3 linked regions of the Homo sapiens genome follow. The protein of the gene in region 2 purifies or fractionates together with the protein of the main gene of each other region. This does not show direct contact. Each region holds a gene or a part of one and is shown on either strand. Other genes may lie near its edges. The genes, in order: JPH1, ARHGAP26 and RAB11FIP5.

Evidence for each region.
Region 1: the proteins of ARHGAP26 (region 2) and JPH1 purify together in Homo sapiens (affinity purification with mass spectrometry; 3 studies listed by BioGRID and IntAct, with this or other methods). This does not show direct contact.
Region 3: the proteins of ARHGAP26 (region 2) and RAB11FIP5 purify together in Homo sapiens (affinity purification with mass spectrometry; 2 studies listed by BioGRID and IntAct, with this or other methods). This does not show direct contact.

The regions. Positions count from the first base shown.
Region 1 is NC_000008.11:74,241,450-74,248,558, forward strand, and holds part of JPH1 (junctophilin-1), read right to left. Parts: intron 3,727-7,109; coding exon 3,080-3,726; intron 1-3,079. UniProt on the Homo sapiens protein: Junctophilins contribute to the formation of junctional membrane complexes (JMCs) which link the plasma membrane with the endoplasmic or sarcoplasmic reticulum in excitable cells.
Region 2 is NC_000005.10:143,221,311-143,228,419, forward strand, and holds part of ARHGAP26 (rho GTPase-activating protein 26), read left to right. Parts: exon of another isoform or gene 1-113; intron 114-1,047; coding exon 1,048-1,136; 3' UTR 1,137-7,109. UniProt on the Homo sapiens protein: GTPase-activating protein for RHOA and CDC42. Facilitates mitochondrial quality control by promoting Parkin-mediated recruitment of autophagosomes to damaged mitochondria.
Region 3 is NC_000002.12:73,102,917-73,110,025, forward strand, and holds part of RAB11FIP5 (rab11 family-interacting protein 5), read right to left. Parts: intron 1-7,109. UniProt on the Homo sapiens protein: Rab effector involved in protein trafficking from apical recycling endosomes to the apical plasma membrane. Involved in insulin granule exocytosis. May regulate V-ATPase intracellular transport in response to extracellular acidosis.

The sequences.
Region 1 (7,109 bases), on a different chromosome or scaffold from region 2:
GCAGGGCACAGGGTAAGTCTTGATTGGAAGAAATTTTCCAGGTGGTAAGAAAATAAAAAACAGGAAATCAAAATACAGAAAGAAATCCTAACTCAAAAAATTATCTTTTTTTCCTTTAAGAGATTGTCACTCATATTTAAAACTGTAAGGAATTTTCTGCTAGAAGAGTTACTATGGTTTATGTGAAATCTAAAGCTTCTCTAGCTAGAAACACAAGAGAAGAACAAAGTTTAATTAAGTATTAACAGCAAAGTTTAATTATATATATTTACCTCTTTCGGGGGTGAGGTTCAAACCCAATTTGATGGGGACGCTTTAAATTTTACACAAATTCAAAAGAAAGATTAGATGAACCTCAAAACAAACTTGGATGCAAATCACAGGAATGGCTGAGAAAAAAGTGTAGTCATTTTTCAGAATGGGCTGAGATACCTAATTGGAAAATTCCCCTCTTGTCTACTTGATGGTAAGACGCTAAAGATGCCTCTTCTGACCCTACCAGAGTTGTCATGTTGCAAAACTCTACAAAAATTTCGGGATCACATTGAATGCGTGCCCCTAGGACATGAGTCCATACGCAACCATTGCCCACAGGGGTCACAAAAGTTTCTTGAGGAAAATCTTCCTCAAGAAAGTAATCAATGCCACAGCCTCCCTTCTCCTACCTCTCATACTCGAGTTAACTAATTTCCTGTGTTAGTCTCCATCCCAGGAGATTTTCTGTATTTCTAGGAGATCAATAGCCAGGGTGATCCTGAGGATGGATCAGATCTACTTGAATATTTCTGAACTGCTTATGCTTCAGTTAGCATTGTGTTGAAACAAACATCATAATAGCCAAGGTTTTTTGAGCATTTATTCTGCGCTAGGCACTATGCTAAGAACTTTTAAAGTATTGACTCATTTAATCTTCACAACAACCCTGTGATAGGTACAGATGAGGAAACCAAGGCACAGAGCAGTTAGGAAACTGTCCAGGGTCACACAGCTGGTAAGCAACAGAGCTGGGATGTGAACCGAGGAAGTTCAGCAACAGAGTTCAATTCTGTGAATTTTAAAATTATTCACGAATGTCTAACTTATACAGTGTCTTTCTCTCAAAACTATGTAGTACTCCATTATCTTAAAGGTCATCCACTGACAACATTTATGATGACTGTGCCACTTCCTAACTCTGAGGAGTGGGGACGGCAGCGTTCTGTTACTATTGGGAAGACAATGTTAATTATTAGAATCTTCGCGTGAAGGTGTCAAGTCGGTCTTGAATTTTGCAGAGGCAGTCTAAAGCTCAGGGTAGCTGCGGAGCTGCTGGGGCTTCCCTTCCCCCTTGGGGTGTAGAGGGGTACCCTAAGGACCAACTACTGAGATGGAGGATGCTTGTCTAACTCCAAGAATCTGAGAATTCCGCAAATAAGTAAAACAGATGTTTTTTCTAAATGAGGAGGCTGTGAATTTACCAAACATACGTATACTACTGTTTTACAGAGAGACTCTTTCAGCTAAGAGCTGGGTAATTCAACTTTTTTTTCCCCCTATCACAGCCTAATGTATAGGACGCTGGGGCATACACTTCCCCTTGTAGAAGTCTAGAAGTCAACTAAAGCCCACAAATGGGTACCCAAAGGTATAAAAGGTATGGCCTTGCATTGTTTGAATTTTTCCCTGTGTAAATCAGGCAAACTAACACTGATATATGCGAGGCCTTATTAACCTGGGGATAAACATGCTGAAAGTCAAATGAGAAGTAAGCTATTACATTTAACAAATTCAATAGTGATTATTATAGTTGTAATGTCAAGATACTGTCATATTAAGGTTTAAAATCTTTAAAATGAATGCTTACTGAAGAGTCAGAATCTTAAAGTTAGTCTGTTTTGAAAACAATTTTTCTCCATGCAGGTGGACTCCTAGGAAGTTGGTCCAGTTAATCTGAATAATTTATGTTTAGCTAATTAAAAAGTTGAAAATTTGAAAAAAGAAGAGAACCAGTGTTTTATAGATATTAGCAAAATAAACACACAAGAAATTTTAAGCATAAGTTAACAGAGGAATTTTAATTGTTTAATCCTGTGAGTAAATCAAACAGACAAAAATAAGAAACTGATGGCTGTACTATATTCTTGTTGGCCAAGATATTAATCCACACCATTATGCAAATATGTCTCTATAATTTCTAGTGAATACTAGGTGTGTAACTTTCAACACCTCTGTTCTAAAGGGATGTGATCAGGTCAAGAGGTCATTTTTTAATCAATAATTAGCTTCAGATTTTATAAATACTATAGCATTTGATAAAACACTAATTCCATACATTATTCAAAAAATCTCCTTTTAAAGAAGGTATAAAGATTTTTCAATAACACAGAGCTTTTCTGGCTGAATAATAAATAAATATCTTAAATGCTTAAGACTAATTGATACTAATAACCTGCATCTACCAGAAAACTGAAATTGTAAGAGTTCTCACACTTTGAAAAGACAGAAGACCAAAGAAATTCTCTTGAACTGTTGGAAATTTTCAGTTCTCTTTTGGGAAAGAAAAATGTTCTAGCTGCAAAGCCTGGCTAATTAAAGTCCAAACTACGTATGTATGAGAAGAATTCACAACGGCTAGAGGAGACGTTCTTTTGTGTAAAGATGCTGACCGCTGTGGTGAAAACAGGAGAACTAAGAACTTGTTGGTGCCCTTTTCCTAGAGCTCTGAGAGCGGCTGGCCCTTGGCAGGGGTCATGATTCCTTTCCAGCAATCAGAGAGCAAGCTACCAGGAAGCTCACCAAGACACGCTGTTAAAGCCTTGCTAAAATGTGCTAAGATGCTGTGCTAAGCTGGTCAGGTCTTACCTACCTGAATTACATCTAAAGTGGGGCTGGGTGAACATAGGGGTGGTGGGGGGAATTTCTGCCCAGAGAGCTCTTTGCTGTCTCAAGCTACCAATGTGTTATGTGCTGCTCTAAACAACCCTGTGCTTCTAGAACCTTGGTTAGCCTGGCTGTGATCAAGATGCACAGTCACCCCACACAGCTCGCTGAAAGAAACAAAGGGAAGAAAGAAAGAGAAAACGCTACTTGCAGTACTTACTGAATTGGCTTCTTTTTCCAAAGCAGGGCATGAATCGTTGCTTGCTGGATTCTTTGGTATAGCAAGTTCAGACTTCTTAGCTTTTGGCTCAGCTTTGCTTTCTTTGGCAACTGGTTTTGTCACAGATTTGGAGGGACTCCACTTGTTAGCGGATGGCTTGTGCACCAGTGCTGAGGAAGACTGGCTGGATCCATCGCCGTCCTCCACGTCTACTGGAGGGTGCTGGGGGGCGTTCAGCTTCACGTAGTAGCCGTGATACTGAGAATGCAGCTCCCCGTTACTGGGGTTGGGGATGTGGTGGCGGCCAGAGTACTTGGACTGGGGCACAACCGCTCCTGCCTCCTTCGTGGGAGCCTTTGACATCAAGGGCTTATTGACAATGGCCGTCACCTGCTCATCAGCCACACTCCTTTTGTCTTGGTTGAGTCTCGCCCCTGAGCTGGGGTTTTGCTTCTTCAGGGGCTTTGGGGAGGAAGCAGGAGAGTGGCTGTGTTTGGGACTTGCCTCAGGAGATCTTGGGGGTGTCGTGCCTTTGCGATAAAAATGAGGAGACTCCTTTGGTGTAGGTGGCTTTTCTGGTACCTTTTCTTCTGGATTTTCTTTAGCATCTACACCTTCCTGAAATCTCTGTTTGACGTAATCAGGGCCTGGCCAAAAAAAAAAGAAAAAAGAAAAAAAGAAAGGAGGTATATATACATATATTTTGCTAAATCAGATTAACCTTTTCTCTTTTAAAAATAATATATTCATAAGGCTTTGACTAAACACATATTTCATTCTCTGGGGAAAAGTTTATTTATTATGGAAAGGCTGCTTTTAAGATAATACAGAATCTAAACAGTTCTGGCTTCCCTGATAATTGCATTCTTTCTGCCTACTTGCAGAATACAGAGGCAAAATTCATGTTGATGGAACATTGGTCGCAATATCATAATTAATCTGCTTGTTCAAATTATGTGGTGTAACTAAGACACAGAAAGTGTATACTTGTACAAGGAAGTAAGCTGACTACTGTAAGCATCTGAAAATTTAATAAAGTATACTGTAAGAGGAGAACCTGTAGATAACATATTTTTAATGATCTGTCATCAAACATGCACTAAAACTTCCTAGTTTGAAACAATTTCTGAGGCTTAGGTTGCACGACACAAAGTCACTTCCATGTAGTCCATTCACAGCTATGGAAAACACGGATTTGCACAAGCAGTGTTTTGCAGGTATCAAAGTCAAGACAAGGCAGTTGTCTCTGGTTCTGTAGCTTCAAGATTTTTTTTTTCCTTTTTTATATACCTCAGGATTGTTTATAAAAATCTTGTTACTTTTTTATAAATGGGAACAAATTTTCATTAAAAAAGAGGCTATTCTTCTGACAGAGGAGGAAAAAATGAAAAAAAAAAAAAAAAAGTGGCCCTGCTGCATTGTTATTTTACAGGGAGTGAGCTATAAAGAAACAGAGTGTGTGCCACAAAATGTCCAGGCCCTGGGAACTCGAGGAGGCTGTGGTCTGGAAAGGGGCATCTCTGGGCTGAGACAGAGACCTTAGACTTCTAGGGCCTTCAGCTCTCAGCAAGTCATGTGCGTACTTTGGCTACCACTCCACCCATCTGCCACTTTTCGCCTCATAAGGTGAGGTCAAGGTCACATGCAGTGCAACTGACCCTCTTCCTCACAAATGGGCAGAAGCTGACAATGTCTCTTGAGTATACATGGAAGACACTGCCCCCACCGACATGCTTATAGAGAGTTGACAGGCTCTTGTCAATTCCACAACACTGCATCTGTTCATTTTCCTTCCTGCCTTCTACCCCCAACCCTTCACCCCAGACAAACTCACTAACTCACTAAAAGATTTACAGAGGGACTGAACAGCAATTATCCTTAATTGTGAAACTACATACTGCACACTTACACTTGTAATTGCTCTTCCCATGGTGGTCTGAGTAATAAGTTATTGTAATGAGGCTGCTATTTAATTATACAAGGAATTTTCCAAAATTTAAAGCCTCACCAAAATCTTAGGGAGTAGGTGTTATTATCCCCATTTTACTGAAAGGGAAACAGCTATAGCAACTGAAAAAAAAATCACATAGCTCCCATTATCTTTTCAGAAAAAAACATAATGCAACACATAATATTTTAAAGCCAGAGACAAGAATTCCTGAGCACCCACCATCGCAAGTTATACTCAGGGCACAAAACATAATAGTATTATCACAGTTTCCACCTTCTAGAAGATACATCCACTCCTGGGGATTCAAGTTTCCCAAATTTGTCAAGATCGCACATGGACAATTGAGACTTCCTTTCTAAACTGGGTAAGCTCCCCCTTTACATAACTGACAATTTTCTTTTAATTCCTCCATCAAAAATGGCAATGTTAATTCTTAGGCCAGTGAAAGTTATTTTGAATGACAAAAAGCAGCAACTGCAAGCATTCAAAAGGCGATGTCCTTCTGTTTCTGAATTCTTTCTTGGTGCTGTGTGTCTGGACATAGCATTAAGGGGAAAAAGGGCAGCATGAGCACAAAAAAGTTATCTTTCATCAGCTGAACTGTCCCTGCTCTTTAAAACTCATCAGGTCATTGATACTAGTCTGTCATGGAGAAGCCCCTTGTGATTCACCTGCAGGCATATTTTAACAAAACCCCTCTTCTTCTGTGATAAAGTATATTCTCTAATACATCTTGATGCAGTGTGATGTTTACATACTTTTCCCTCACTTCTCTACCCAAAATTTCACTATGGTTGGTTTTATTTGTGCTTTACTGATATTCAACTTCATAGCATTACTAAAATACCCATCTAGGTATGGTAGTGGATGTACTTTGCAAAGATAATTAAAATAGTCAAGGGCCTTGGAGCCAACGGACTTTTAATTTAAGCCACTTAATGCTGAAACAATTACATAAAATACAAAGTGCTTTTAACATCTTTGATCTAAAGATAAATGCAAGTTATTTTTGCATAGAAAAATTGCCAATATCTACTAAGATTAAGGCACATTAAAAGCTAATGTTTAACTTAAATATACAGAAAAGAGTGAAAAAATAGACTCTGGCAAACATTTTTCGTTATGCATTCTCAAAGTTGGAGGGAAAAGGTAAAGAGTCACTGCGCCCTGAGAAATGAAGCTGTCACAAAGCCCATGCATTTCACTTAGAAGATGTAAGACCATGAGATTGTAGCTTACAAATTTAGGATTTAAATCTTTGTGATGCCCTCGTCACAAAAAAATGTCATTTTTTTGAGGTGATAAATAGGTTAATTAGCTTGATTTAATCATTCCATATTGTATTAAGAAATTGTAACATCACTTTGTACTTCATAAATATATACAACTATAACTTATCAATATATACATTAAAAACATTAGGATGTATCCTAGTGACCTTCAGCACCATCAGTATAGGTGGATAGGCCAAGGTGAGACTGATTTGGCCGTTGGAATAATTTGTATTAATGAACTTATGAAGCTAAATTTTGGATTCCATTGAAAGTATTTCTTATGATATTTATCAACTCTCAAATACTGGTCTAATCACTTCTTTAACCTTTAGAAATCTGATGTGTCACCTCTTTGGACACAGTTTTCTTGTCCTAAATGCAGTAAGAAAGGCATGTCTTACATGATTACTCATGCCCACTCTGCTAAGATGAGTTTAGGTATACTCACTCAAATTGATCTACAGGGCTTCTGATGATACTCAAAAATGATGAGCTCAAAGAATTTACTAGAATGGTGGAAGTACATTTTAGCATCAACTTTCACATTTAAAAAATTCCTAGCTTTATTATGCATTCAAAAAATATCTGGGTAAGGGAAAAAATGCACTCCTAAGCAGGGGCGCCTATGCTTGCTGCCTATCAGAGCATCTGAGGTGTTATGGCCAGATATTTTAATAAGTATGAATTGAAGCCTAGAAATATTAATGTTTAACAAATGATCCGAGTGATTCTAACGCACTGGGTTATAGGCATTTGACACTATGCTAGCAATATGTTGATACTGCTTGCATTGATTGGTTATATT
Region 2 (7,109 bases):
TCAAACTGGTATATAGAGGAGGGGGAAATCTAGAGAACAGGAAAGAAAACTAAGAAAGGGTGTGAGTGAAACAGAGAAATGGCTATTCAAAGGCTATTCAAAATGACAGCAACCAAAAAAAAAAAAAAAAAAAACCCCAGAAAATTTGCAAGGAAATTAGAAGCAGGGGGTAAGGATTTGAAGGAAAGTAAGATGATGACAAGAAGCTGGATTGATTGATTGAGACAGGGTCTTGCTCTGTCGCCCAGGCTGGAGTGCAGTGGTGCAATCACGGCTCACTGCAGCCTCGACCTGCTGAGCCCAAGCGATCCTCCCGCTTCGGCACTCCCCCTCCTCCAAGTAGCTGGGACTACAGACACGCTCCATCAAACCTAGGTAGTTTTTGTATATTTTGTAGAGACAAGGTTTTGCCATGTTGCCCAGGCTGTTCTTAAACTCCTGGGCTAAAGCAATTCACCTGCCTCAGCCTCCCAAGGTACTGGCATTACAGGCGTGAACCACCAGGCCCAGCCTCTAGAAGCTGGATATCTTTAAAGAGTAGTTCTTAGCAGTCTTCCATGGGCACTGCACTGAGTACATAGTTGATACTGGGCAGGTGGGTGGGTGGATGGATGGAAGGAAGGAAGGAAGGAAGGAAGGATGGAAGGATGGATACATGTATGGATGGACCAGGACAACTGTTGCCCTCTAACAAGAGTAGGAATCTGTCACTTCTTTGTAGTTTAAACCAGGAGCTTCAGAAAATCCGTGAAACCCCTAAAATTGTACACAAAATTTTGTATGTCTGTGTCTGTTTCCTTTTTCATTGTAAAGAAAGTTCAGGACAGCTTTCATCAGAAGGCTTATATTCCACAAAAGGTTCAGAACCTTTGGTTTAAACTTCTAGAATGATGTAACTTAATAAGTGATTGTACTCATTGTCCAAGCTTCCTTCATACACACACACACACACACACACACACACACACACACACCCCACACACACATCTGCCGCCTGCTCTATCTGTAATGCCATCTCTTCTCGCTTTCTCTCCCCTTCCTGTACAGTTCACCCATCTCAGGAGCCTGGCTGGTTGGAGGGGACTCTGAACGGAAAGACTGGCCTCATCCCTGAGAATTACGTGGAGTTCCTCTAACCGTGGGCCCCAGCAGAACTGCTGAGCTTTACATGGTATCCATGACAACTGCTGATTCCAGTGTCGAGGCCATTTCTCTTTGCCACTGAGAAATGCAGCGTGACTGACTCTGTTGCTACCTGTCAACATGAATGTTTCTGTGAGCTCTGGTGTCACTCATCTCCATGATCATCTCAGCCAACATGCATCAGTACTGCAAGAAAAGAAGTCAATCAGCAGAGGAGAGCATTTGATAACTAAGAGGAAGACTTGCAAAGCCGTTTTCTCATGAGTACCCTGAATAGGGGGCACTCATTTTGTTTCAACGGTCCAAACGCCCAACCTTCAGAAAGAGGAAGTCAGATAGAAATAGTCCCTGAGAGCACACTGTGTAGCTAAGCCTGCTGGGGCTGGGTGAAGAAATTGGCGCTGAGATCCAGGCTGGATCCATTGCTTTTGTTTACAATAGGCACTCTCTCTACCCCACCTCTCAGTACTTGAGACTTAAAGTGCTACAGGCAGCTGGATCTGTTTGCATGCAGGATGAAGAGGGTTAAAACACTGTTTATATAAGATCCAATCTCTCACCATCTCTAAAGCAGCCGTTGGCCTGTCATCAGTGAGATACAATCCAGTCTTCTCATGCACGGGAACACACACACCCTGCGTTTCTCCCTCCCAGGCTAGGAACCTCTCTGCCACCAAGGGCTGCCATCCATCGCCTAGTAACCACGGCAACCCAACCTACTCTAAAACCAAACCAAAAAAATAAAATAACACATCCTCTTTGCATGACACATTTTTTTTCTCCCCTTTTTGGTACACTTTTTTTGAATGGTTTTCTAACAACTTGAAGCACAGGATCAAGGAATTAGGGTGGTCTACTTGAGGCAGATGGGATAGTAGCTGGGAACTGTTCCCTTTCTGATTAATTTCAGCAGCATCGGAATATATTTGGAGCACACCCTAGTAACCTCTTGAGATTAAATTACATAGTCTTAATATTTCTGTTCCTCCATGCAACTGATGTTTGTTTTTTAAAGGGTAAGATGCTGCCTCCCAATGGGTGATGCCATCTGACTGGTTTCCCCATGTCCTCCCATTCACCCATCTCTGCTCCCACCCTTGCCTGCCTCTAACCCACCACTGGCCAGCCCCCTTGCCCTACTCTGGGCTGCTGAACACTGGTGCTGTGGTGGTTTTCAAGGTTAATTCCTAGGCTAACCGTATGGCCTATAGTTTAAAAGCACATCTATGTTCACTGCCACTCTGAAAAAGGGAATTATTTCTCAGTCTTTCAAGGCTTGAGACTAATATAGGCCATTGTGATTCAGGAAGAAACCCAAGGTTGGAGGGTGGGATGAGTACCCTCTGAAAAAGGGAATTTGCTGGTGAAAAGAGGCTGGATCTTGTGGAAGACTGTCTTGGATGGGGAAGTACTACCTGGAGATTTCAAATTCACTTGGCCTGCAAACAACAGAGTTATCCGTATCTTCCACATGTGAATGTCATTGCAAGGGTGACTCTAGACAAACTACAAACCGATGGACCGTCAAGCTCCCCAGGAGCCCCTTGGATGGCAGCGTTGCTTCAGAGTGTTTCCTGTTTCTGGAATTCCTTGTTAGGGAACTTTAAAGAAGAAAAGAAAAACTTGAATTGTGTTGAATTACTGTATCTTTTACTTTTTTTTTTTTGAAAAGATAAACTTGTAAATAGAGTGATTTGAAATACTATATGGCAAAGTTTTATATTTGATATTCTTTAAGTTAGTTGCTCACACACTTAGGCTTTGATTGCTGAAGAAGTATGTTTAAGAGGGAGAGAGGGGAGGCAAAGCTGAAGAGAGTCAAGGTCACTGTCCCCGCTTCGGCCTGAAGGAAAGAGAAGACATTTCTATGGCCTTGCTCTCTGCTGTCCTGTTGGTGGGCACGACACATCAGTGGTGTTCAGTCTTTATGTGTTTTTAAGCATCCCTTGGGCTTTGGATTTGGAGATGGGAAGAGCATCTCCAGGCAATGAGTTTTTCAAAGAATGCCTACTTAGTAGTAAGATGAAGCTCAGGATTTAAATAAGTGGGGTCAGGCATTCGAGTTTTTGTCTTTCTTCTCAGGTGTATTTCTTGGTACCCCCAAGATATCAGGCCAGAAAGAGATGAGTCAGTTGCTGTGCTCTTTACTTCTTTTTCTCCACATCTTCTGAGGCTTTAGAAATGTGGACAAGCTAGTTTTCAAATTTTGTGTGCGTCTGTAAGTTCTTAAAGAACCAGCTTCTTAGAATGTTCAGTTCTCAATGTGCTGCTGCTTTCCCTTCTCCTAAACATTTTAAAACTCTTCCCTTTCACCTCCAATTCCCGTGATCCCAAAAGAAGAGGAAGACTCCAGGAGGGGTATAGATTGTGCCGTCATAGCTTTACAGGTGGTTTTAAAGTTAACAGGGGTTTGTCATGGTGATTCACTACTCAGTTTATCAGCTCAAGGATTATACAGCTCTTTTCCGGGAACTCACCCAGGAGCAAGCGAGACACTACCATTGAATCAGGGAATGAGAATTAAGAATGGACAGGACCAAGACAGAACTCAAGAAAGCCACTGGGGAAAACTCGAGAAGAAAGGGAGTATACTAGTAGGTTAGATCTGTGAACCTGAGGACAAGAAGACCTTGGGAAATGGAGGCCTCAGGGGATGTGCATTCACATACTATTACGCTTCTCAAAGAGAGACCAACATCATGCTTTTAACACATTTGATGAGGTTTTTTATTTGTGTTTTTGTTTGTTTTTTGAGATGGAGTCTCACTCTGTGGCCCAGGCTGGAGTGCAGTGGCGCAATCTTGGCTCACTGCAACCTCCACCTCCCAGGTTCAAGTGATTCTCCTGTCTCAGCCTCCCAAGTAGCTGGGACTACAGGCATGAGCCATCACACCCAGCTAGTTTTTTGTATTTTTAGTAAAGATGGGGTTTTGCCATGTTTGCCAGGCTGATCTCGAACTCCTGACCTCAAGTGATCTGCCCACTTCAGACCCCCAAAGTGCTGGGATTCCAGGTGTGAGCCGCTGCGGCCGACCACATTTGATGTTTGAAGTTGTAATCTGTCCCATCATAAACTTACCTGGAGCTCATGTGGAGGAACAGAAGGCCAAGATCCTTGCTTTGGGGGTGCCTCACGAAGCATCCCTGTAGACATTTGGCCCCAGCTTCACTGCTTGGAAGCATGTCCCTCCCTCTTGAGTTGGCTCTGATTTGAAATCGGGAGAAACAGAGCTGCTGCCAATGGGATCTTTTAGGTAACTCCCTCCCTAGCTTCCGTGTGTCTGTGCAGTGCCCATGAGCTGCTGCCAATGGGATCTTTCAGGTACCCCCTCCCCAGCTTCCCTGTGGCTGTGCGGTGCCCTTGACAGATGGCTTCTCTGTTTCCCTTTGCCCAGCCAGGCTCCCCTCCTTCCTATTAGCTACAAAACTGGATAAACTTCAGAATATGAGCCAATGAGTAGGAAGGAACTTGAAGACTAAAGATTTTACTCTCTCCCCTATCCATGCCCCCTACCTCTGACTCTCTCTGTGTGAACAGGAAACTTTAGGGCAGATGAGGAGAATGAATTGGTTATCAGAGTGGAAGACCATGGCCCAGGATCCCTGAGCTTTCCCAGTAGCCTCCAGTTTCCTTTGTAAGACCCAGGGATCACTTAGCCATAGCCTGAATCTTTTAGGGGTATTAAGGTCAGCCTCTCACTCTTCCTTCAGGTTACTAACAAAATTTCGTAGCTAAAGAATGCCATGGCCGGGTGCAGTGGCTCACGCCTATAATCCCAGCACTTTGGGAGGCCGAGGCGGGCGGATCACGAGGTCAGGAGATTGAGACCATCCTGGCTACGACGGTGAAACCCCGTCTCTACTAAAAATACAAAAAATTAGCCGGGTGTGGTGGCGGGCGCCTGTAGTCCCAGCTACTCTGGAGGCTGAGGCAGGAGAATGGCATGAACCCAGGAGGCAGAGATTGCAGTGAGCCAAGATCACGCCCCTGCACTCCAGCCTGGGTGACAGAGCCAGACTCCGTCTCAAAGGAAAAAAAAAAAAAAAAAAAAAGAATGCCATGCCAGGAGAAGACAGCTGGTTTCAAATCCCTGCCCCCAGGCAAGTAAAACCCTGACTTGCTCAAGACAGAAGATCTTTTCTCCTGTTTTTCAAAATAAACATATATAGGGATGGACCCTGTGCATTGTGGCCTGCCTTGGTGTCCTAGAATTGGAGCCAGTCTTTAGCTTAATGTCTGAAGTATTTATACGGCCAATATGTGTTTTCTTATGTCAGACCACACTGTCTTTTTGAATATCAGTTCATTTCCTCTCACCGAGTGCTTTTCGGTGAGAGGCAAAGAGAAAGAATGAACAATCAAGTATTGACAGACTGGCATTAGCAGGACAGAGCCATACTAGTGACAAGGGCATCCCAAGGCACTTGCCCAGAGCTGCAGAGTTGTGTGTGCCATACCTGCGGCTCAAAGGGAAGGCCTTCTATCCCCTGAGTTTCTATCAGCTGAAAATGGCAACTGCTGTCTCAGTAAAAGCTCTGTCTTGACTGCAGAGGCTCCAAAAGCATTCACAGTTGAGGGGGAGAAAGACAGAAAGAAGAAGCCAAAGATAACCTGATCCCTGCCTGTCTGTTGGCACCTGTCATCCTCTGGCTTCTGCTCCCAAAAGCAAGTCTGGATGACTGAGTTTTGTGGACATGGCACTCCCGGAGACAGCAGTGGCCACCATGGCACCCAGAGTTTGCCCAAGTACTGAATGTTTTGTGAGCAACCATGTTCCCCAAGTAGGTAGCCAGCGCTGCAGAAACCAAACAGCCTCTTAGCTACCTGACTTTAAAAGGAATGACCTAGGTGTTCTGCCAAAGGAGTTATCTATCATCTCTGGCAAACTTGACAATCATCACTTACCTCGACAACCCTGCCCCACATCACTTTATAAAGTCAGCAGGATGTCTTCTCACCCACCCTGTGCTGGTGTCTAACAAATTTATCTTGTCATGCTCAAATGTGTTTGGCAGCCACACCGATCGGCTGGGTGCTGAACCGCCTCTCTGTAATTGTAGCATCAAAATGACAACAGCAGCAGAGCAGCGAATCTTGCACAGCCCCACAGCATGCCTGAGACAAGACTCCAACAAGTAATAATTAGCTTTTTTTCTCCTGCCGCCTACAGTACCTGTCTAACTAAAGAGCTTCCCAAAGTGGAGGGAAAGGCCATAGAATCCAGGTGTCATTCAGAGCCAGTCCTTGCTGAAATGTGGTCTTCCAGTGGAAGCACCTGTATTATTGAGAGGAAAAAGTGTTGGATGCAAAGTAACACCAGGACTAGAGAGAAAGAGAAAGGTGAACCATCCTAAGGAGCTTTGGATACTTTTTTAGAAGGATAAATATTATGCTTACTGAGGAGAAAAAAAAAAGCGATCACAGAAAAATTTCACAGCTAATATTTTTACAAAAGTTGTGCCAGACATTACAGAGTGAAAACGTCTCTCAAGGTGGAATGCTTTAGAGAGCAAAGGCTTAGCATAGACCTAGACCCTTGTGTGGGTATGACATGACATGACATGTCCATGTCAAAATTCACTTTAGTCAGAACCAGAGTATTGATAAACAAAATGTCAGTTACCTGGAGCAGTCCTGGAGAGGTTAAGACATTCTATACTGTTCTACGTCAACCATTTCTACAAAGTTGTCCAGACACCTAAAAGCAGCTTTCTTGGTTATCCAGATGCCAGAATCAACCTTGTATCTGACAATGCACATCTGTTGATTCTAAAGTATATTTATGTGTGTGTGTATGTGTGTGTATACAGCACATATTTACATCTATGAAGACATAGACACTTACAGAGACCCACATGAGCTGGCACTTTCTGAGCCTTTACAGCCTTTAAGACTCGGAGGTTGAGAATTAGAGACACAAGAGAGGCTGTGGATGGCCTATTAAAATGATTAAAGATGTAAATTC
Region 3 (7,109 bases), on a different chromosome or scaffold from region 2:
AAGACAAGGTAAAGTGAAACTAGAACTATTATATTCAGAGTATGGTGACACAGTTGGAAAACCCTTTTCCCTAGAGCCTCCTCCACCCTGATGCCTCCTCTCCTCTCCAAGTGCCCACCACAGCAGCCTGCCTCACACACTGGCACACAGGAGCTGTGTGGGCCTCAAGCCAACCCCTGCTGTCTCCCCGCATCCACCGCCTACCCCATCTTTTGATTTGGTATCTACAGTAAAACTGCAAGCCAGACATAATTGCAGGACAGGATACAGCCTCTTATCAGGCCAGAAGATGATTCTTATCACCTCCTCTGGCACCATGCCTGGCACCAGCAACCTTTGGAGGGAGCCCAGGTCCTCATTCATGAGTTCCCCCTGCCTCTGTGGGGACAGCTCACTCATCCCTCCTCAGACCCCAGCCAGGTCCAGCCTCCCTCCCTCCTGGGCACAAGCACTTTTAATCCTCATCCTAATGCTGTAGGCTCCAAAGGTCTGTCACTGTCAGCTCACCCAGCACAAGGAAAAGCTGCAAAAATGGCTGGAGACAAGTCAAACCACAGAGAGCAACAGAAAAGATGTAGGGTTGATAGCACAGTGTAGGGAGAAAAGCATCAGGCTTAGACATCAGAAATCTGGCTGCCACTAAAGAGTTGTGTGACCTTGGACAGGTCATTCCACCTCCTGAGACCCCAGTCTCCATATTCGCAAAAATGGTGATCCCCCTGTCTGCCCTCAGGGAAGAATGAAATGAGGTGATACTGGGAAGGCACCCTTAAAAGTAGGCCAAACCACACAGAAAGATGTGGGTTTATTGTCTATCAAAGGCCTTTTACAGGCCATCATCAGCCCCATATAAGTGAGGTGGCCCAGGACCAAAAAGCAACAACCCTGCCCAGGAGGAAGGAGAGAACCCGCAAGATGACCTCTCTCAGGGGATCTCTGGCAGGTGGAAAAATAAAGAAATTCCACTTAACCCATCCCCCTCCCCAGTGTGCTCCTAACCCCATATTCACCCTGACCAGGAGACTCAGGTTGAGGAAGACAAAACCAAGTGGCGATGGTCCCCTCTGCCAAGGTCTCAGTTCAGACCCCACAACAGGGGGAAACAAACAATAACTTCCCTGCCAGGCTCATGGGAAGTACAGAACTGTGTGGTGAGAACGTTGCATTTGGGAACAAGGAGGGAGGGAAGAAAAAACACAACGCATTTGCCTTTAAATGCAGAAAACACCTTTGGAAGGTTACACAAGAACTGGTAATGTTGGATGTCTCTGAAGAGAGGAGCTAGGTGACTTAAGGTGGGTCAAGGGAAATTTTTTTCATTATGTGCCCTTCTGTACCTTTAGAATTTGGACCAGGTGAACTACTCAAAAGTAAATAGGGGCCAGGTGTGGTGGCTCACACCTGTAATCCCAGCACTTTGGGAGGCTGAGGCAGGCAGATCACTTGAGGTCAGGAGTTCGAGACCAGCCTGGCCAACATGGTCTCTACTAAAAATACAAAAATTAGCTGGGCGTGGTGGCACGCACCTGTAGTCCCAGCTGCTCGGTAGGCTGAGGCAGGAGAATCACTTGAACCTGGGAGGCGGAGGCTGTAGTGAGCCAAGATCACACCATTGCACTCCAGCCTGGGCAACACAGCAAGACTCTGTCTCAAAAAACAAAACAAAACAAAACAAAACTAAATAGGAAGTAAAGAAAGTCCTGCTGTTTTGCTGAGAGTGGCACACAGGGAACTAAGCTTGGCTCCCCTCACTCCCTCTCCTGGCCCAGTCCCACCACACTCACAGTTTCCCTGCCTCCAACTCACCCTGCCTCTAATCAGGTCTCACCTGTTATTCAAGGCCTCACCTCTCCCAAGAAGCCCACCCTGATCACTCCAACTGGTGAGCTCCCTCTTCTCCTGACCCCCTCATTCTCTCACGCTTTTTATATGCTGCTTTGTAGAGGAATTGTCCTTGCTGCGTTAGGCTTATCTCAAACATATTTTAGCCCTTCTGGAGAAAGGGCTATCCACTTTATTTCCCTGGTTTCCCCCACAGCACTGACCTAGGCACAGTGGTTACAATGGTTGTCCAGTAATTGCTTCCTGGATGTTGTGAAACAGAAGGGAAAAAATAGCAAATGACTGTATTGCTGCAGGAGGAAGAACAGGATGGCTTGGAGTGTTCTGTCACAGTAAAACCAGCATGTGACGTCTTGGGAAGGATTACGGAGTCTGGTATGTGCTGATGCCCCCAAGCCCTGCTTGAAAGGAGCAAATCTCCCCAGGGTGGAAAGTGCCCTGGTGGAAAGTGAGGCTGACCTTCTCAGGCCTCACTCCACTCCTTTTTTTATTTTTATTTTTTGAGACAGGATCTTGCTCTGTCACCCAGGCTGGAGTGCAGTGGGGCAATCATTGCTAATCGCAGCCTTGAACTCCCGGGCTCAAGTGATCCTCCCACCTCAGCCTCCTGAGTAGCTGGGACTACTGGTGTGCACCACCATGCCCAGCTAATTTTTTGTATTTTTGTAGAAATGGAGTCTTGCTATGTTGCCTAGGTTGCTCTTGAACTCTTGGCCTCCAGTGATCCTCCTGACGCGGCCTCCCAAAGTGCTGGGATTACAGGCATGAGCCACCACACCCAGCCCTCACTCCACTCCCGAGAGGTATCTGGTGGCAGTGACTCCCTCCCAAAGTATGAGACAACATCCCCCAGCCTCTGGGACAGACATAAGGCTAGAGCTGCAGACCAAATGTGCTTATCCCAATAAACCAAGGACTCACCCAGGAGAAGCAGGTCATGCCTACAGAGCACCAGATTAACCCCCGAGATCCATGTCAAGGAGAAGAGAGGAAGCCTTGGCAGGCAGCAGCTGAGCACCTGGCCCTGTGCAGAGCAGGGTCATGGAAGACATGGGGGAAGACTGAGGTGGGCAGTGTGGTGTGGTGGCCAAGAGCATAGACTGGGAAGCCAGACTGCCTGGGTTCACATCCTGACTTTGTGCCATGTGCTGTGGTCAAGTCCAGTGACTCATGCCTATAATCTCAGCACTTTGGGAAGCTGAGGCAAGAGGATCACTTGAGAGTTCATGGCTGCAGTGAGCTATGATGGCACCACTGCATGCCAGCCTCAGTGATGGAGCCAGACCCTGACCCCACCCCCTCAAAAAAAAGAAAGAAAAAGCAAAGTCACTTTACCTCTCCGTGCCAAGGTTTCCTCAGCTGTTAAACAGCACCTACACCTCAAGGGCTTGCTGTGGACAAATGGAAGTCCAGACCTTAAGACAGTGCCAGCACCCAGATAGGCCTTCATCAGCAATGCACTAGACCAACGAGGCAATGAAAATAATGCACCAAAACAGGTGCCACATGCTCCAGATGTGGGGATTCAGAGAAGGCTGGGGAGGCAGATGGGTTCCATGATGGCCGACAGGTCTCTGGTGTATGTCCCCTCCTCACAGAGGAGGAGACCACAGCCAGCGCCAGTGGCTCTGTCTGCTCCGAACATCTCCAGGGCTCCCTGTCTAGGCCCCAAAACACAGCACTTGGCTATAGGGCTTCCTCCAAATGTAGGGAGATATCCAGGCTTCCCCCCCTTTGGAATCTCTCCCCCACCAGTGGCCCACTCTTGGCCTTTCAGGCCTCTAGAACTGCCTTTGGATTGGACTACCCTTCCAGGTCAGCAGAGAAGCCCAATGTCCCCATCTCACTAAAACCTGGCAGGCACTTCCACAGAAACTCCGGGGTGCACACAGGGCTCCAAATGCCACCTCTTCTTTACCCCAAATCCTACAGCTCTGTGGGCTGCCCGGGTCTAATGGAAACCACACAGAGCACACCCTCCACTAAGTGCTGGGTAGTGAGAGTGTGCAGCTCTCCCTCTGCAAACCCCAGTTTCCTTGTCTGAGCTCTCTTCCAGCTCCCATGCTGGAGTCCCATGAGTAAGGGCTGTGCTCCCTTCTCCACTACCAGGTGAACCAAAGGTCACAGTGGCCTGTGATACCCCCTCCCCACCCTGCAGCTTCTCGGAGGTGCTGGCTGCCCCTGGGAGCCCCGTTTTGGGAGGCCCCACTTACTGCTCCTGAGAGGCCGGGGCCCAGCTCCATACAGAGGCCTCATGTGGCCAGCCAAGTCCCTCTCCTCTCTGGCCACCATTGTTCCCAAGGTAGAAATAACCTCAGGCCAGCTCAGTAAGGGCACTGTGATCAGACTCTTCCCTGAAGGGACTGCCAGGTGCACAGCAGACTCACATGTGGACTCATTTTTATTACTTGGCTGTGGGGAAGAACAAAACTGCTTCATGGCTACACTATTTTGCAAAGGAAAGAAAAAGAGGACTGCTTCCCCTGGAGCAGAGCCACAACAGCTTCTGTTCTTGTATTCATCATCTGTCCCTGCGTAGGGTGAGAAGGGCAGGAGAACATCTGGACAAGGCCAGGCCAGTGGTTTAGACAAGAGCGTCACAGCACTGAGGTGGCAGCAGTGACAAGTGGGGCGGGCAGCTCCCAGCAGAGAAGGACAGCCCTCAAGGTCACCGGGATGTGGCTCTGCTGAGCTGTGCCTTGCAGCCAGCTGCCTACAAGGAGAGACAGGTGGGGCAGAGATGGGGCTGACCACAGGCCCCTTGAAACTCCCTGGTCCCAGCCAGGGCTCAGGGCCAGGGGCAGATGGGGAGGGCAGGGGAAGCTGCCAGGCCAGAGAGGAGGAGCTGCCCAGCCTGACTGAGGAGTCACACTTCCTACCCCGCCCCACACCCCAAGACGCTGCTGCTCAAGCAACCCCAAATAAAAACCACCCCATAACTAAGGGCCGTGGAGCCTCGGCATACCAACGACTGGCTTCTGAGTGCAGCCACACCCTTCCTCTGCAGCCAGAGTAGACCTCCCCAGCAGTGCCACAGGCCTCCCATGCCAGCTCTGGGGCCGAGCAGGAGCCAAGGCCAGGGGCTCAAGTGACCACAGCTGTTTCCCGAGGGGCAGAGTCACACCCAGAAGCCAACAGAGAGAAGGCTGTGGGGTCACGCACCATCTGCCCACCAACTGTCTGCCCAGGCTGTCTGTGGGCTACGGGATAGATGGAAGCCCTCAAAGACCATCCCAGCCTTAGGCTAATGGGATGCATGTCCCCTCAGGTGCCTCCCAGTGCCCCCAAACCCACCCACCTAAGGAGGTCTCAGAACACCATGACCAGCCAGGCAGAAGGCTCTCATCTCAGACCTACATCTTTCACAGCCTCAGCTCTCCGAGCTCCCTTGCCAAGTGGCACAGTCTAAGCAGGGGCTGAACGGAGCCTCTTGCAGGCCACAATTCATGGTCACAACAGTTTTAGTCTTTGTGATGAAAAAAGACAAACTGATCCCAACCCAAGCTGAACCCACAGCCTTTGCTTTCCCAAGAGGCCAGCTTCTAACCATTGATCCAACAGGCCCAGGATGACGATCCTGTCTGCCACACTCCAGGCCTTACCGCAGGGACCATTTCACCCTTATCAGGATGAGGGAGAAGGTGGACAGGGGCTCCATATAACACAGTTGTGCTCTCTCCTCCTCTCCTAAAACACACAAAGACCAGCATTCCAGGGGGCAAAGACCAGGTCTCCCCAACCAAAATGGCCTTGTGGCAGATGCCCTGTCTTCTTACTCCAAAACCTTTGCTGCTGCTTCCTTCCTTCCCTCTTCTGATATATCCAGGTCCATTCCCTGGGGGTGTGATCCACACCAATCGCATAAAGACCAAAAAGGTCCAAATGACCCATCTGACCCCACAGGGAACAAGGAAAACTAACTAACCACCACATCCCATCCCTGTCTTGGGAGTTAGGGAGGCAAACACAGGACACCCACTGGGGAGTGCTAAGAAGGACGTTGGGCCAGGCGTGGTGGCTCATGCCTGTAATCCCAGCACTTTGGGAGGCCAAGACAGGTGGATCACCTGAGGTCAGGAGTTTGAGAACAGCCTGGCCAACATGGCAAAACCCAGTCTCTACTAAAAATACAAAAATTAGCTGGGTGTGGTGGCACATGCCTGTAATCCCAGCTACTCAGGGGACTGAGGCAGGAGAATCGCTTGAACCTGGGAGGGAGAGATTGCAAGTGAGCCCAGATTCTGCCACTGCACTCCAACTTGGGCAACAGAGTGAGACACTGTCTCAAAAAAGAAAAAAAAAAGGATGTTGAAGATAAAAACCAGAAAATAAATCGCAGAGAAGCATCCAGGATTTCCAGACCAACAGGAACATGACGATCCATGGACAGTTCTACTGAGGGTGGGGAGATCATTAGTTTCCTTGTGTACTACCATTACATTTTGTTTTGAGAATATCCTCTTCAATTATTTGGAAGCCTCTGGTGAAATTCCTCATTTCAAAGACTGCCCCACTCACACAAGACCTTCGGAGGCTGCTGAAGCACCTACAACCCCAGCCACCACCATCACACAAAATGGGGCCCCAGAGTCACCACCACGCTAATATTTTGAGAGCTTCTATGTATCCAGAACTACATTAAGGCTTTTACAGATGGTGTCTTATCTAATCTGTACAACTCTATGATTATTATCATGACCTTTTTCAAAGTGAGGAAGTGGGATAAGTAACCTGTCTGCTGGTAAGTCACAGAACGGGGAGTGAAATCCCAGTCTCCAGGTTTTTAAGCCCTGGGCCATCCTTCCTTCCCAACAGGGCAGGGGCAGCTCCAGGCAGGGCTGCCAGGGAGGAGAGCTGCAGAGCTGCGGGCTTATCTGAGCCTGGTTTCAGGACTGCAGAGGCCTCTCAAGCCCAGCCCTATTTCTTGGGCCTCTTGCAGCAAATAGAATACAGAGAGCTGCAAAGGGCCAGCTCATTTTGTTGGGAACTCTCGTACTCTTCTGTGTACTCCGTCACCCATGGTCCTAAGGCTTTCCTAGGCTCTAAGTTCTAGACTGTCTCCCCCATCCCATAAGAAGCTCTTCCAGACATTGTTACTAAAATCTCCCTTCACCATCACTGCTCTGCACTGACCACCTACCATGTACAGGGACTGTACTAGGTGCTTAAGCTGCATTTTCATTTCATCCCTCACATCAACCATATGAAGGTATAAATTATCTCCATTTTACAGACGTGAAAACTGAGGCACCAAGAGTTTATATGAC